Linked DNA regions of Homo sapiens: region 1 is linked to region 2. Evidence: fine-mapped expression QTL. Tissue or cell type: whole blood. Region 2 holds a variant in brackets; the other region holds the start of a gene. All regions are shown on one strand. Distances are from middle to middle.

What was found. PIP is the estimated chance that this variant, and not a neighbour inherited with it, causes the effect.
Region 1: it holds the start of GTF3C5, and the variant in region 2 is fine-mapped to the expression of GTF3C5 in whole blood (TOPMed, PIP above 0.99).

Annotation. Positions count from the first base shown.
Region 1 is chr9:133,026,508-133,034,608 of GRCh38, forward strand. GTF3C5 (general transcription factor IIIC subunit 5) reads left to right here and starts at 4,490. Exons shown (of 11, transcript NM_012087.4): 1 at 4,490-4,657. The coding sequence starts at 4,505. LOC105376306 (a long non-coding RNA gene) reads right to left here and starts at 3,915. Exons shown (of 2, transcript NR_135119.1): 1 at 3,643-3,915; 2 at 1,645-1,924. RefSeq lists enhancers at 3,671-3,920, 4,155-4,806, 4,251-4,510.
Region 2 is chr9:133,050,956-133,059,041 of GRCh38, forward strand. It overlaps GTF3C5 (general transcription factor IIIC subunit 5), which reads left to right. Exons shown (of 11, transcript NM_012087.4): 4 at 1-23; 5 at 1,105-1,209; 6 at 2,873-2,987; 7 at 3,453-3,533; 8 at 3,757-3,854; 9 at 5,057-5,139; 10 at 5,811-5,953; 11 at 6,859-7,548. The coding sequence ends at 7,025. It overlaps LOC124902325, which reads right to left. Exons shown (of 2, transcript XM_047424377.1): 2 at 7,126-7,219. The coding sequence ends at 7,126. It overlaps MIR6877 (microRNA 6877), which reads left to right and starts at 1,041; the gene lies at 1,041-1,104. The variant G/A (reference allele first, on the strand shown) is at 4,406.

The DNA.
Region 1 (8,101 bases), 24 kb before region 2:
TCTTTGCATTCTTGCTGTGCCATAACATGGTGGAGGGCACATATGCAAGAGGGCAGGAGAGAGAGAGCCGGAGAGAGCTTGCCTCTATAACAAAGAGATAAGCAACTCACTCCCACAACAGCGACATTAATCCATGCATGAGGGCAGAGCCAACATTAATTTATTCATGAGGGCAGACAAATTAAGTTTCCAACACATGAAATTTGGGGGACATTTTCAAACCATAGCATATGCCCTGAATCCAGGCAGAGAAAGTGTCCCCTCAGTGCACAAATATTGTCACAGCTGCCTGCTCTGAATGCTGCAAGGTTTTGGAGAACGTTAAAGCTACTTCTTTTTTTTTTTTTTTTTTTTTTTTTGAGATGGAGTCTCACTCTGTCACTCAGGCTGGAGTGCAGTGGCATGATCTCTGCACACTGCAACCTCTGCCTCCTGGGATCAAGCGAGACTCCTGCCTCAGCCTCCCGAGTAGCTGAGATTACAGGCATGTGCTACCACATGTGGCTAATTTTTGTATTTTTAGTAGAGATGGGGTTTCACTATGTTGGCCAGGCTGGTCTCGAACTCCTGACCTCAAGTGATCCACCCGCCTTAGCCTCCCAAAGTGCTGGGATTACAGGCATGAGCCACCGCTCCCAGCCAAAGCTACTTTTTAACTGGGTTCCTGATCTTTCTTGGCCTGTCTCTGCTCCCAGCCTTGCCTTACTGCTCCTGCCTCTGACCTCCCGCTTTGGATCTCAGGCAGGACCAAGTCTAATCTCAAAAAGCTTGGTCTGATGCCCTGGGGTTGGTCCCTTGTCTTCCCCTCACACTCAGCCCCTCCTCACTTCCTGTGCACTAAGGGACACTCCTTGTCTGACAAGCCTTGATTTAGTGTCCCTATGACCATGCCCTGACCCGGGGCTCGATTGAAGGCTCAAATAAGACAAGTGGCCTCATTCAGTTGTTCAATAAATACTTCCTGAGCACCTGCTCGGTGCTCAGCCCCATGCAAAGCAGTGGTGACAGTGGGAAGACAGTGGTGAATAAGACAGACATGGTCCCTGTCTTCAGAAAGTTGCCACTCAAGTGGAGAAGTAAAAAAGAAAAAAAATAATAGTGCTTCCGGCTCCATGATGCAGTGGGTTTGGGGCCCCGGGCAGCGAGGATGGCACCAAACTAGTGTTTTGGGGTCAGGGAGGATTTACCAGGCAAATTGAAGTCTAAGGCAACAACCTAAAGGAGAGGAGTAGTTAGCCAGGTGGTGGGCCAGGGATGCTGGGGAGTCACTGGAGGCAGGGACAGACTGCGATCTCATTCTGGAAAGATCACTCTTGCTTCAGTAAGGAGGAAAAATACAGCAGACAAACTAGAGGGTCACTGGATTGCATGGTGGGCTCACTAAGGTTCCAGGTGGTTTGGAATCAGCTTTCCAAATTCAGAAACTCAATCTCAATACCCGGAGGTGGGAGTGCCATATTTAGCAAATTAAAAAATCACCTAGCTAAATATGAATCTCAGATAACACATATTTAGTATAAATATGCCCCAAATATTGCATGAATTCAAATTTAACTGTGTTCAATATTTTATTGGCCAACTCTACCAACAGTGACCAAGTCTTCATGACTGTCTTATGTGCACCAAACTCACAGGGATCTGATGTAAATACACCAATTTATTGATTTACAATTGCAGGCAAGGTTAAAATATACATGTTATTCAGTTTCTCCTTTCTGGAAAATGAAACAGTCAGAAGACTGGTGAACATGGAATGAGGACAAAAGGACACAAGGAAGTTTGAAAGGAAATTTCATCTCAAGGCATGGTAAATTCTGGAGAATCATCCTGGCCTCCCTACAGAGAATCCTCTTTGGTGGCAGAAAGTGCAGGTCCCCCCTGGAGAGGGCAGGTCAGGGACCACCGGGTCCTCGTGTGCAGCTCCCTGTGGAAACACGTGGTTCTTCTAGCTCAACCATCATCTGCTGGTGGTTGATTTCCCACTGTACTCTCAGGAGGTGTTCTTTCAAAGCTTTGGGGCTCCTGACCCAGCCTTCCAATTACAATACAATATATTTCACATTGAGGTTACACTTTAGAATGTATTCAGTGGGCTGAATTCATGTAGCTATTTATTCTGCCTTCTTAAACCCAAGGAGAGCAATCAGGTACTCTTCTGATTAAGAAATCACAGGCTGGGCACGGTGGCTCACGCCTGTAATCTCAGCATTTTGGGAGGCCGAGGTGGGCAGATCATGATGTCAGGAGATCGAGACCATCCTGGCCAACATGGTGAAACCCCATCTCTACTAAAAATACAAAAATTAGCTGGGCGTGGTGGCGCATGCCTATAATCCCAGCTACCCGGGAGTTTGAGGCAGGAGAATCGCTTATACCAGGGAGTCGGAGGTTGCAGTGAGCCGAGATTGTGCTACTGCATTCCAGCCTGGTGACAGAGTGAGGCTCTGTCTCAAAACAAACAAACAACAAAAAGAAATGACTTTAGGCAACATAGTGAGACCCCGTCGCCACACACACACAAATACAAAATTAGTCGGGTATGGTGGTGCACGCCTGTAGTCCCAACTACTCAGGAGGCTGAGGCAGGAGGATCACTTGAGCCCAGGAGTTCGGGGCTGCAGTGAGCCATGATCACACCACTACACTCCAGCCTGGGTGACAGAGGGAGATCGTGTCTTTCAAAAAAAAAAATCACTTCAGAAACGGGGTACCCATACCCAAGGGGTCACTTGCTCTTACTAATTTCTAGCTGTAATGCAAGTGGCATGATCATAGCTCACTGCAGCCTCCAACTCCAGGGCTCAAAGGATCCTCCTGCCTCAGCCTTTTGAGTAGTTGGGACTACTGTGGCATGCACCACCATGGCCGGCTAATTTTGTATTTTTTGGTAGAAATGGGGTCTTCCCCTGTTGCCCAGGCTGGCCTCCAACTGCTGGGCTCAACTGATCCTCCCGCCTCAGCCTCCCAAAGTGCTGGGATTACAGGCGTGAGCCACTGTGCTGGGCCATGATTCTCATCTCCCAATATTCTCAAACCCAGTCCCTTCATCTCTTGACTGGATTATGCAGTCTCGGAGCTGGTTTATCTGAACTCACTTTCTCCCCCTTTGATCTGTTCTCCACACAACAGCCAGAGAGGTCTTTCAAATGCATGAATGGGATCACTGCTCCGCATAAAACCCTTCAAGGGGCCAGGCGCGGTGGCTCACGCCTGTAATCCCAGGACTTGGGGAGGCCGAAGCAGGCGGATCATTTGAGGTCAAGAGTTCAAGACCAGCCTGGCCAACATGGTGAAACCTCGTCTCTACTAAAAATACAAAAATTAACCGGGCATGGTGGCAGGCGCCTGTAATCCCAGCTATTCGGGAGGCTGAGGCACGAGAATAGCTTGAACCCGAGGCGGAGGTTGCAGTGAGCCGAGAAAGCGCCACTGCATTCTAGCCTGGGCGACACAGCGAGATTCCTTCTCAAAAAAAGAAACCTTCAGGGGCTCTCCACGGCACTGGGAAGCAGCCAGCCCGACGGGTGGACCCTTTTCGTGGGTGCGGGTCTCTGACCTCGGTCGGCCTCGGACCTCATCTCCTCCCTGTTTGAGGGGCCACACTCCTCGCTCCGGGGCTTTGCAGCAGCCCTGGGCGCCTACCGGACAGACGCCGTTCTCCCCGCCTGGGTCTTGAGTAGGGCCCAGCACACAGTAGGCGCTTAATGTCTGCCTGCCTAACAGACGAACGCCGGATGCCCGCGTTCGGCCCCGAGCCGGCGCTTCGGGGCTTTCTGTGGAGGCGGGGCGATGGTTACAGCACAGTTCCCCCGCGCTCGCCTTTTCCACATCCACCTCCGCGAGGCCCCCCGCAAGCGCCGTTGGAAACCTAGTCCCGAGGGGGCTGCAAGAGCTTGGGAGAAGAAGCGCCAACACCGACAGAATACCAGGCCGACCCAATGCGGAAATCAATTCTCAGCCGGGACCTTTTCCCCACCAAGCAGGCGGGCCGGAAGTCTGCCTCTGGCCCGCCCCCGAGGTGTCATTGGGTGGAATACCCAGAAGAGGGCTGGGACGTGGTTAACTCTAGTTCTTTATTGGTTAAAACGTACGAAGCTGGAGGAGAAGGTGGGACCTAGCTTCCTCCGGACTTCTCATTGGCTCAAAAAAAAACTCGCTCGGCCCTCGGATTCTCATTGGCTGAAGTCGAGGGAGGTTTGTGTCTTATTATCCTCCGGGTCCCTCGCTGGCTAGTAGGAGAGACTGGTGCTTGCCCCGCCCGGTGGACTAACTCGCTTAATTTTAAATAAAAAGTCGAGGACACGGCGGTCGTTTTCCCGAAGACATGGGCCCTCCCATGGGCCATTTGCTCCCTGGAGGCCCTCGCGTCTTGCTGAGCCCGGGGAGTTAGGATGACGCGAGCGGTGAGGGAGCCCGGAACGATTCCTTCGCGGAACAATTGAGGCGAGGCCTTTGGGAGTACTTTGTGGGACGGACCCTGGCGGGCCCTGCCAGACGCACAGGGATGGCGGCGGAGGCGGCCGATTTGGGGCTGGGGGCCGCCGTCCCCGTGGAGCTGAGGCGGGAGCGACGCATGGTGTGCGTGGAGTACCCGGGAGTGGTGCGTGATGTGGCTAAGATGCTGCCGACTCTGGGCGGCGAGGAAGGCGTCTCCCGGGTAAGGGGCTGGGAATCTCGGTGTTGGAATAAGAGCTCGGAGTCGCAAAGAAAACGAGCACTCAAAGGATTTCTCAGCAAGGGAAATTTAGCAAATTTACTTACGCAGAAGGGTGCTGCTCGCTCTTCTGGCCGCTGCAAGAGAGCCAACAGAACAAAGAAGGGAAGGATTTTTGTTTTTGTTTTTGTTTTTTTGTTGGTTTTTCAGGCGGAGTTTCGCTCTTGTTTCCCAGGCTGGTGTGCGGTGGTGCGATTTTGGCTCACTGCAACCTCCGCCTCCAGGGTTCAAGCGATTCTCCTGCCTCAGCCTCCAGAGTAGCTGGGATTACAGGCGCATGCCACCACGCCCGGCTAAATTTGTATTTTTTAGTAGAGAGGGGGTTTCACCATGTTGGTCAGGCTTGTTGGAAATAAATTTTGGGTGCCGCAAAGAAGAATCAGCACTCTGGCAAACAGTTTTCTCAGCAAGGCAAATTTCCTTCTATAGAAGGGTGCATCTTGCGGATGGAGCAATGGCGAGAGCACACCGACAAGGAAGGGGAAGGGGTTCCTATCTCTTACACAGCTAGTCTCTACTGCTGTGTCTTTCCCATATTGGCTAGGGTTGGACCGCACAGTCTAAGCTAATTCCGATTGGTTATTTCAAAGAGGGCAGGGGCACAGGCCTGAGTGGCGGGGTGAGTAGTTTTGGTGGGAAGGATGGTTACAGAGCAGGTGACTCAGGATGACTAAGGACAGAGCAGGTGATAGAAGCTAGGAAGGGGTTGTTTACTGAAACTAGGGGCAAGGAGGCGTAAAGAACGAGGGGTTAAACTTTAAAATGGAGAACAAAGAACAGGGAAGCTGAACATACTGACATATTGGTTCTTTGAAATGGAACTCATAACTCATTGTATTTATTAATTTTCCCCCTCTTGAATTTAAAGGAAGGTAAAAGGCTAAAATCTTTGAAGTGGAATTTACTGTGTCCTATAGGCTGGTCTTGAACTCCTGAGCTCAGGTGATCCACCCGTCTTGGCCTCCCAAAGTGCTGGGATTATAGGCGTGAGCCACCGTGCCCAGCCTGGAATGGGTTTTTATCCCTAAGGCAGTCAGTCCCTGTTTTTGTGTCCTGTCCCTGCTGGTTGGAGTTGGACCACACAATCTAAGCTAATCTCAATTGGCTATTTTAAATAGAACAGGGGTGTGGGTTACAGTGACGGGACGAGCGATTTCGGTGGGAAGACTAGTTTCGGCGGGAAGGGCAGTTAAACAGAGCGGGTAACTAAGGGCAAGGAGGCACAAAGAACAAGGAAGTTAGACTTTGAAGATGGAGAACAAAGAACAAGGGAGTTGAACAAGCTGAACCTTTGAAGAAGAATTCACTGTATAGAACAGTTTCCCCCTCTTGATTTTCATACTTCTTTCTCTTCAAACCTTTTTAGCATGTCTCGACTTTGCTGTTCTTGGTTTTCTAAAAGTAGAAGTTTGTCTGAATAAGGCGGGGGGAAATTGGAGGTTAGTGAGAGCTGTCTCCGTAAGTCTTTGTATTAACCCTCAGGCACAGGGTATGATACAACATCCTACGAGAATAAACACGTTTATTACAATGGCAAGGGACATAAGGATCGAGGACATAAGTCCTTTCCACCTGCCGAACAATCTTCCCGTTAGATCAGTGAAGAGATCGTTTATCCCAGAATTTTAAGCTAGCTCATTGGATAAAGCAGTAAGACCTTGCAGTGCCTTTGTTATGGTTCCGTCAGGAACAGTATTATTTGGGATAAAAGTACAACATTGGGTTCCAAGCATGACACAAACGCCACCCCTCTCTGCTAGTATCATTTCTAATGCTATTCTATTTTCCCAAGCCATTTGACTGGTGGGTCCTAGTTGTTCAGCTGTTCCTTTGATAGCATTCCTAGTATAATTAACAAATTGTTGCTGGTTGTAATAGATGTAACTTATCCAATCTACATTTTTATTTATAGTTAACCACCAGAAAAACATAGACTCAAATCCCGCAGCTATTTGATTACAAGCCTTAAATTCATCAGGTACCCCTCGGGGAACTCCAGTGGCATCTGTATAAACACGAGGGTCAAAGGAACCACGGGGGGCATCTCTTACTCTACGGTGTCTTGTTTTTACTTCTTCTGGTTGATGAAATGCCAGAGTGAAAGGGATGGCCAATTGGATCAGAGCACAGGTACCGCTCCAGTTACTTGGCAGAGTATCCAGTTACGGTCCACCACAATGCCACCATACATCTGCTCAGGATAAATGACTAGGGGCAGATTCATGGGTAAGCTCTTGGAAGGGCTTAAGCTCACTGCATCCTGTTAGGTCCCCAAGGAATGCCAAATTTTCCCTGTCACAAGAGACACAAAGTAAAATTGGCACTGGGAGACAGAAGCTGGATAGCCCTCAGGGGCTGACCCGCAGGGTGTTGAACCTCAGGGAACAGCAGAGAGAGAGCTCGGCACGATTTATCACCCCAGGCTGTGGGGTCCTGGAAAAGAGCTACCGTACAGCCCATGCCCACTCGTCTGGAGGACCATCCAAGTGGAAAGGGGACAGTCTGGGCTTCTGGTCTACTGTGTGCACAAGTGTAACAATCACTTTTGTTTAAAGTGCGGACAGAATATTTAATCCATTCCATCCAGGCGTTTGCATCTCAGTACCCTGTTTCAATTGCTAGAGTTTGCTTTAGGTCTCTTACTTCTACAGCTGCTACTTTGGCTGGGTCGTTGTGGAGACCGGAGGGGAACACTGGGCCTGATATGTTTGGGGAGAGCGTTGGGTCCCATACGTTCCCTGGACTCTGGGTCTGGGTTTCTTCATTGTTTTTAACCGCCGATGGTCCAGTCAACCTTAGAGAGGGTTCCTATGGGATCCCGTCCTGTAACATCTGCTCCTAACCCGTACCGTCCGAATACAGAGGGTTCTTGGGCCATTGTTTGGGGATTATCTATAATTAGCAATAAGGGGTTACACCGCAGTGGCTTACAATTTGGTGGAGTGGAGCGATGGATAAGTTAGAGTTTTTGTTTGAGTTTCCGCAACTTATTTAAAGGAGGGGGGTTGGCTGTCCGCCTCCCATATTGACTGGTCCACCAAACATTTGCCCAGTCACCACAGGGGCCCTTTAAGGCTCCATACTTATACTTGTTTGACTGTCTGCGATATGGACATGGATACTTAACTACATCGGATAGCTGCCTTTGAGCTTGTTCGTATCTGCACGGGGTAAGAACAAGTGTCGAACTGAAGGGTCAAGGGATGGTTAGCCTGAGTCACATTGATGACAAGATGACCTTATGTTGGAAAGAAAAGGAAAAATAGACAAGTGATTATTAAGCCCTTTTTAGGGTTAGTTTGGTAGGGGTGGGTCCCGGGGTGACAGCCCATTTTTCCCTGTCTGTGGACATTACTCCTTTCACCTGGCGTGTAGTGTGCCCATCCC
Region 2 (8,086 bases):
AGGTGGAGGAGGAGCTGAGGAAGGCAAGTCCTGCGCTGCGCCTGGCCCCGGTGGCTCCAGCCTCTCTGTTGGCTTCCCGTGTTTACCCAGCTGCTCCCTGTTCCTGGCTGTGGGGTTGGCTGCACTGACCTTTACCCATTCCTTAGTGCATGGGAACTTCTCACCTTCAGATGCCATGTCTAAAGGCTGTGTCGGTATAAGTTCTACATTCCCAAGGTTGAAAATGCTTCTTAGAGTTCTTAAGAAAAATATGCGTGCGTTGTTCAGATGTGACATAAACGTGGAGCTCTGGGATCCACTGAGCTCTTATTCTTCCATTCACTCATTGCAGCCAAGCCAGTGGGGCACCTAGTGTGCCAGGCCCAGCACTTTCTTACCGTTAGAACTGGAACCGTGCTGCCAGGCAGCCCTCCTTCCCCGGGCTTGCGGGTGCCGTGGAGTCCTGCGTCCCCACTGGCATGAGCATCAGGTTCACAGGCCACTGCCACCTGGAGCCCGGCGCTTCCCTTACGCAGTGTGCCTGTGGGAGACCACGTGGATGTCTTGTTGATTTCCAGCAGTCACTGGGGCACACTGTCAGTGGCTCCTTATTGCCCACCAGGCACAGCCCACATTCCTGACCTGAATTGGCTCGTGAGGCCCGCTGCCCCAGCCCCCTGGCCCTCTACACTCCGGCCACACTGACCTTTGCAGTCCTCCCCGGGCCAGGCTGTCCCCTTCAGCCCTGACGATGTCCCACCTCAGGCACCTGTTCTGTAGATTGGGGCAGCATGGGGACCCTGGGACTCTAGCATGTGCCCCCTGAGCCGTACTCCCCACCGCGCTGTGGGCTCTATGAGGACAGCGACCATGTCTCTTATCGTTTGAGAGACCCAGCCCCACAACTGCACTTGGCACAGGCTGGGCATGCAGCCCAGGCTTCTGAGGGAAGGGATGAATTAGTGAGAGCAGGAGGTCCTAGGGCCACGCCCTGTGTGTCCAGCCCCTGTCCTCTACCAGCTCCTCTCTGGAGGGGCCGCTGGGGCCCAGAACATGTTGGGAGTTCAGGGCCGAAGGGTGGAAGCTGCTGGTGCTCATCTCAGCCTCTGCCCTTGGCCTCCCCAGCTGTTTGACATCCGTCCCATCTGGTCCCGAAATGCTGTCAAGGCCAACATCAGCGTCCACCCAGACAAGCTCAAGGTCTTGCTTCCCTTCATAGCCTATTACATGGTAAGTGTCAGCTGCCCACCCACCTGCCTTGGTTTCCACCCATGTGGTCCCTGGTCCCTGCTGTGATGTCTTAGAGCCACAGTAAGAGCAGCCAACCCCCTATCCTGGCTCCCCATCCTTCCTGCCCCACCCCCATCCTGGCCCATCCTTCCTACCCACCCCTGGCCTGGCCCTCATCCTTCCTGCCCTGCCCCCAACCTAGCACCTCCCCCGTCCTGGCACCCCCATCCTTCCTTCCCCCCTGTCCTGGCCCCCCGATCCTAGCATCCCTAAGACAGCTTATTAAAGCCAGCTAGAAAAGTTTCAGCTCCCTGAGTCCAGGGCGCCCTCCACAGCCTGTTGGGCTGCAGAACCCAGCCCCTGACCACAGCGGCCCCATGTCGTCCTCTACCTGTGTTGAGTGGGGTTCAGTGGGAGGCAGATCCACCTTTGATCCACAAGCATGTAAAGACACATGTCATTACTGAGGTTCCAAAGGTGCTGGTTGGAAAGGGATCCTCCCCGCTGCCAGGCCTCACAGAGCATTAGGGGAGGCCAGCGTAAGACATGACTGTGAGGGTCTGCAACAGGCAGTAGGACACAAGAAAGACTCATTTCTTCTGCCTTGTTGGACTTCCGGCTCAGGAGAGCGACCTGTGCTGCTTGGCGTTGGCATTTTATTTTATTTTATTTATTTTATTTATTTTGAGATGGAGTCTCACTCTGTCTCCCAGGCTGGAGTGCAGTGGTGTGATCTCTGCTCACTGCAACCTCCGCCTCTGGGATTCAAGTGATTCTCCTGCCTCAGCCTCCTAAGTAGCTGGGAGTACAGGCGCACGCCACCATGCCCAGCTAATTTTCTTTTTTTGCATTTTTAGTAGAGATGGGGTTTCGCCATGTTGGTCAGGCTGGTCTCGAACTCCTAACCTCAAGTGATCTGCCTGTCTCGGTCTCCCAAAATGCTGGGATTATAGGCGAGAGCCACTGCGGCTGGCTGGCATTGGCTTTTTAGACATAAGCCATTCAAAAGCTCCGTTTAGGGACAGAAGATGTCTCATCGATTAGGCCAGTAGTAACATTGGGCACTTAATATGTGCCAGGAACCATGGTAAAGGCTCCACGGGCGCTATCTCATTTAATCCTCTGAAAAACCATGGGAGGCCAGGCATGATGGCTCACTCCTAGAATCCCGGTACTTCGGGAGGCTGAAGCGGGAGAATCGCTTGCATCCAGGAGTTTGAGACGAGCCTAGGCAACATAATGAGACCCCATCTCTACAAAAAAATTAAAAATTAGCTGGGTGTGGTGGCTCGTGCCTGTAGTTCCAGCTACTTGGGAGGCTGAGGTAGGAGGATCACTTGAGCCCAGGAGGTTGAGGCTGCAGTGAACCGTGATTTTGCCACTGCACTCAGCCTGGGCAACAGAGTGAGACCCTCTCCCCCAAAAAACAAAAACCCACAGGAAAGGGTGCTCCTTTTCCCTCCATCTGACAGGAAGACCAAGGTTTGGAAAGGCCACGTGCCCTCACCAAGGTGACAGGGCCTGCATGTGGCAGAGCAGGGCTGGGCATCCAGAGCCCTGTCCCCAGCTCCTGAGCTCTTCTGCTGCCTCACTGTAGGCTCTGGCCCGTCCAGGGACCTGGGCCTTCACCTCACCTCACATTTTCCCCACTTTTCTGTCCCAGATAACAGGCCCCTGGCGCAGCCTATGGATTCGATTTGGGTATGACCCCCGAAAAAACCCAGATGCCAAGATTTATCAAGTCCTCGATTTCCGAATCCGTTGTGGAATGAAACACGGTAAAAATTCCTGAAAGCTTTGCTTCCTGCCTTTCTCTCTCTTTATCTTTCAGTTTCTAGCATTCTCTTTTGTAGTAAGAATCTTTTCATTTGGAAAGAATAAAAAAACCTTTTGCCCCCGTTGCTGAGACTCTTTTGAATGCAGAATGGCGTGGAAACGAAAGTCCTAGTTCTGTGCTGGCCCCACCACTGACCGCCCGTTTCTGAACCACAGTCCCTCATTAAGTGACTCCACGTGCCCTATGGTCCTGTGATGCAGGCCAGGCACTTGTGAGAGCATCAGTGCCCGCCCTGCCTGGGAAGTGCTGAGATGTGTTGGTGACCGCAGTGGCGTGCTTGGCAGTCTGGGGTTGCCCTCTCAGGAGCTGGCCCCATGGACCCAACTCCCATCTCCAGTGTGAAGCCAGTGTTGTGTGCCGACGGGCCCTGTGCCCGCCCACCTGACTTGCCCGCCCTCGCCTACAGGTTACGCCCCCAGTGACTTGCCGGTCAAAGCAAAGCGCAGCACCTACAACTACAGCCTCCCCATCACCGTCAAGAAGACATGTAAGCGTGCCAGGCGCCTTTTGTGGGTCATGAGTGATTTGCCAAGGAAGGCGGGGCACCTGGACCCAGACGGGGAGGTGGTTCCTGGGGGTCACTCCAGGGCTCTGCCGGTCATTCCTCCCCTAGGAGGGGGTGGGCTGGCAGGAGGGCAGGGCATGGTGGTTGGGAGAGACACCTCCTCCCCACCCTGCACATTCCAAGCACTGCTGTTGTCCCCACGCAGCCAGCCAGCTTGTCACCATGCATGACCTGAAGCAGGGCCTGGGCCCGTCGGGGACGAGTGGTGCTCGGAAACCAGCTTCCAGCAAGTACAAGCTCAAGGTGGGCGCCCCTGGAGGCCAGGAATGGAGGGGAGGACTTCCCTCTTGGGGCCGGGCACCTTGTGGGTGACACCTGGGGGGCTGTGATTAGGGCAGCTCTGCCCACCGGGGCCTCGGCACCTTGCTTCCTTTTAGGTCAGCCTTCAGACACTGAGGGTGAGAACTCGGGTGCAAAGCCCCAGGGCTGTGTGTGTTGGGGACATCTGGCGAAGAGGTGGTGACAAGTCTCAGGGAAGTCTGGCACCAGCAGCTGCATGTGGTTGTCCTTCTCGAGCCCTTTGGGAGCCTGGGCCCCCACTGAGCCACGTGACCACTCCGGGAATGATCGGAATTGGGCACACACAGGAGGACAGAGCCAGAGCAGGCCATGTGGGCTGCAGCTGTGGCAGGAGCCTCACTGGCTCACGTTTCCGTCAGTGCGGTTGCCCAGCGGGGGTTGGCGGTTTCCAGAGCTGTTCCCACATTCAGGCTCCCGCAAGCCGCTCCACAGCCCTGGGGGAGGCCGAGAAGGGGGCATCCCGCACGGTGGAATCACCTGCTGAGGGAGTGGGT[G/A]GCAGAGATGAGTGCAGCAGAGACGGGTGATGCGAGGGACTTGCTGTCCCCCAGTGTCTGGGGCCCTGCCTATTTTCTAGGTTTTTTAGACCTTTGCTGCCTTCCCAGTGAGGGGCGATCATGCCACAGCCTGTGCGGCCTTCCTTCTCGAGGCCTCTCCTAGGAGGCCGTTATCCTTACTCTAGAACTACATGGCTGGGTACGGAAAGGAGAGAGCAAACACTCACTAAGCCCTGCTTTTCCCAGAAAAGATGTCAGGGCAGCCCATAGGGGGACATAGGGTGACAAATTAGCAGCAGTGGGTGAGGGATAAGGTCAGAGTGCAGGAGGGCACAGAGAGCAGAGCCCGGCACAAGGCTAGTGCCAGCCCCATGCCATGGGCGCCATGGCCTGCTGCACGGGCGGGCTCACCGTTTCCAGTGGCCCCAGGAGGGCCTGGGTGCTCCTCTGCCTCTCCCAGAGCCTCCTGGGGAGTTGGACATTGTTTTTTCCCCAACTCCTCCGTGGCCTTCCAGCCTGTCTGCCCAACCTGCTCCTGGTGACCAGCCAGCTCCCTGGAGAGACCCCATGGGAGCCTACATGGAGTCTGCAACACTGGCAGCCCCAGGGCTCTGGCTCACCTTCCCTGTCTCTCTCCCCCTTTGTCACCAGGACTCTGTCTACATCTTCCGGGAAGGGGCCTTGCCACCCTATCGGCAGATGTTCTACCAGTTATGCGACTTGAATGTGGAAGAGTACGTATGGGAGGGGCCCTGAGACACTGAGGGGGGCCCGTGGGACCCAGGGACCAAAGCGGTCTCTGAACTCTTCCACTTCACGTCGGCCTTCATCTCCGGCAAGAGCACTCGCCTGTCTGGGAGTTTGGTGCTGCCGAGAGCCCTGGCATGCTGGTGGCCCTCGTAGAGGCGGTGCCCTATAGAAAGCCGTGGCTCCAAGCTGCGCAGAGACAGTTCTTACTGTTATGTCCTTGCTCCTCTTCCACTGTCCACATAAAGGCCCCATGAGGTGGTTCTCAATCCCAGGACCCATCAGATCCCAGAAACCTTTTATCGACTTGTTCTCAGTGATGTTTAAAGAATTGCAGGGAAAGGGCACTCACTGGGATGAGAGGAGATGGGAACACATCAAATACATCTTGAACTCTGCTGAAAGCCATGGTTCACCAGAAGCATGTGCAGTGGTAACACGGCCAGCTTCATGTGTGTGAGGCGGTCCAGGGAGCACACAGGTTTAGGGCCCCAGCTGGGAACACACAGCTTGTGTTTCCAGTTCCTCTCTGTAGACTTCGCTCACGGGGCTGCCTTTGATCTCAGTACAGCTCTGCCTCTGGCAAAAACCAACACTGGCATCTCTTAGCAGAGACCCGCCCTGGGACTTTATGTCCCAACCCTCTCCCCACCCCCAGGTTGCAGAAGATCATTCACCGCAATGACGGGGCAGAGAATTCCTGCACAGAACGGGATGGGTGGTGCCTCCCCAAGACCAGCGACGAGCTCAGGGACACCATGTCCCTCATGATCCGGCAGACCATCCGCTCCAAGAGGCCTGGTAAGAGCCGCTTGGGGTAAAGGGGGTCCAGGATGCCTGGTGATCTCCTTTGAGACAGAGGTGTCCCTAAGGGGACCCATTCCTGGGAAATGGCACCCAGGTGGCATCATCTTGCCCCTGGCCCTGGTGGGAGGAGGACATTGTGAGCCAGAGCCCAGCCCAGGTGCTGGCATCACCCCAGCTGCCCAGAGGCTGCCTCAGCCGAGGCCCTCAGCCCTGCGGTCCGGGGCAGGAGACAAGCCCAGAGGGGCTGGGTGCAGCAGCCTGGCACTGCCATCGGGGCCTCCACCTGACGCCCTCACACCAGCCCATGTCTTTCAGCTGTGCATGCGCAGGCTCTGCCTCTGTCTTCTTCCTGTTCTGTGTGGCCCAGCCCCTTCCTGGAACCAGGCAGCCCTGGCAGGAGTGAGGGCCAGCTGCAGGGAAAGTGAAGGGGGCAACACCTGCCAGGCTGTGGGTCTCACGAGGCTCGGGGGAGTTATAAGAGGCCCCCTCTCTCAGGGAACTCCTCCCAGGCTTGGGGAGGAGGCATCCTGGACCCAGCCACGCCCCACAGATCTGACCGAAGCAGGGGTTCTTGGTCTTGCTTGGAACCCAGATTCAGCCCCCTTTGGGAATCTAATCAAGGGTGTGGACCCTTTCCCAGAGAAAATGGTGTGTTCACTCCTGAGGGTCCATGGGCCCTTGAAGCTGCTCATGGCTCCCCTGCTGCAGGATTCCCCTGGGTGCCCGTCAAACTACAGCTTCCCTGGGGGGCCTCCACCCCATACTTACCCACCAGCTTCTTAAGAGCTCGAGCTCGGACCCTTATAGTAGTAAACAGGCTCCCCAGAGCCTGGTGGCCTTTCTGGGGCCACCCGGCAGCCTGCATGGGACACCCATGGCCTTGTCTCCTCCGGCCCCAGCTCTCTTTTCCAGCTCAGCCAAGGCTGATGGCGGAAAAGAGCAGCTGACGTACGAGTCTGGGGAAGACGAGGAGGATGAGGAGGAGGAGGAAGAGGAGGAGGAGGACTTCAAGCCATCCGACGGCAGTGAAAACGAAATGGAGACAGAGATTCTGGACTACGTGTGACAGGGCCCAAGGCTGGGCCTCCCTGACCCGGCCAGACTGGTGTCTGGCCTAATGAGGGAGCCGGGGCTCCCCATTGCCACCCACAGTGCCCGGAATGGCCCTAGGAGGCCCTCTGAGGAGAGCTAGAGTCCCAGCAAAGGGTGCAGCTGACCCTAGCACTGGCTGTGACATGCTGCTTGGTGCTGCCTCTGGTCCTGAGGGGTTAGGGACATCCCCAAAGGGTATACCCTGGCTCTGCCACCCATGAACCAGCCCAGCATCCAGCCAGTGAGTGGGCACCCAATGCCTCTCAGGATGAGACCAGTAAATGCCGGAGGTGGAGCTGGGCAGCTGTGGAGCCCCAGGCCACAGGCCAGTCTCGCTTGGCTCTCATGACTGTGGTGGTGGAGATAGCGTGGGGAGCCTCGCCCATGGTCTCACGTGGCAAGAAGTGCCTTTAGCTCTGGATCCCAACCGTTTGGCACAGCTTTGGCCACAGCCAGGCCCCTCTGGAATTGTCCTTATTAAACCAGTTTCCCGAGAAGTCTTGGTTTCTTGGTGTGAATGTTGGCGCTGCAGGGGAGTCTTCTTATTGCCTTGGGGCTTGGGCCCCCTTTGTCCCTTCATATATTCCTTCATTCATTCCTTCATTCATTCAGTGACATGCTGGCAGTGCTGGCCTGTGCCCCCCTCACATGTGGTCGGGTTGGGTGAGGGCAGCTAGGAGGACTCCAGGCCTGGGGTCAGTTCTTCTCTAAATGAATACCTTCTTGACAAAGTCATGGGAAACGGGCCCTGCTGTCCTGTGGCTGCCCAGTGTGAAACTAGTGGGTCCTGAGCCCACCGAGCCTGCCTGCCTGGCCCCGCTCCCCATGTTGCCCTTGGCTGAGGCACCTCTTGTGTCTCCCCAAGTCGGCAGCAGCACTCCCTCCCAACCTGTGTGCGTGCCGAGTATTTGTTGAAGAAACAGTCAGTTGTCAGAGAATGGCCCTGTTCTGGATTGGCTGGTTGCTTCTGTGTGGTGCTGAACCTGCTCCTCTCTCCCCTGTATTTCCTGGGGACAGGTGGAGGCTCAGCCAGAT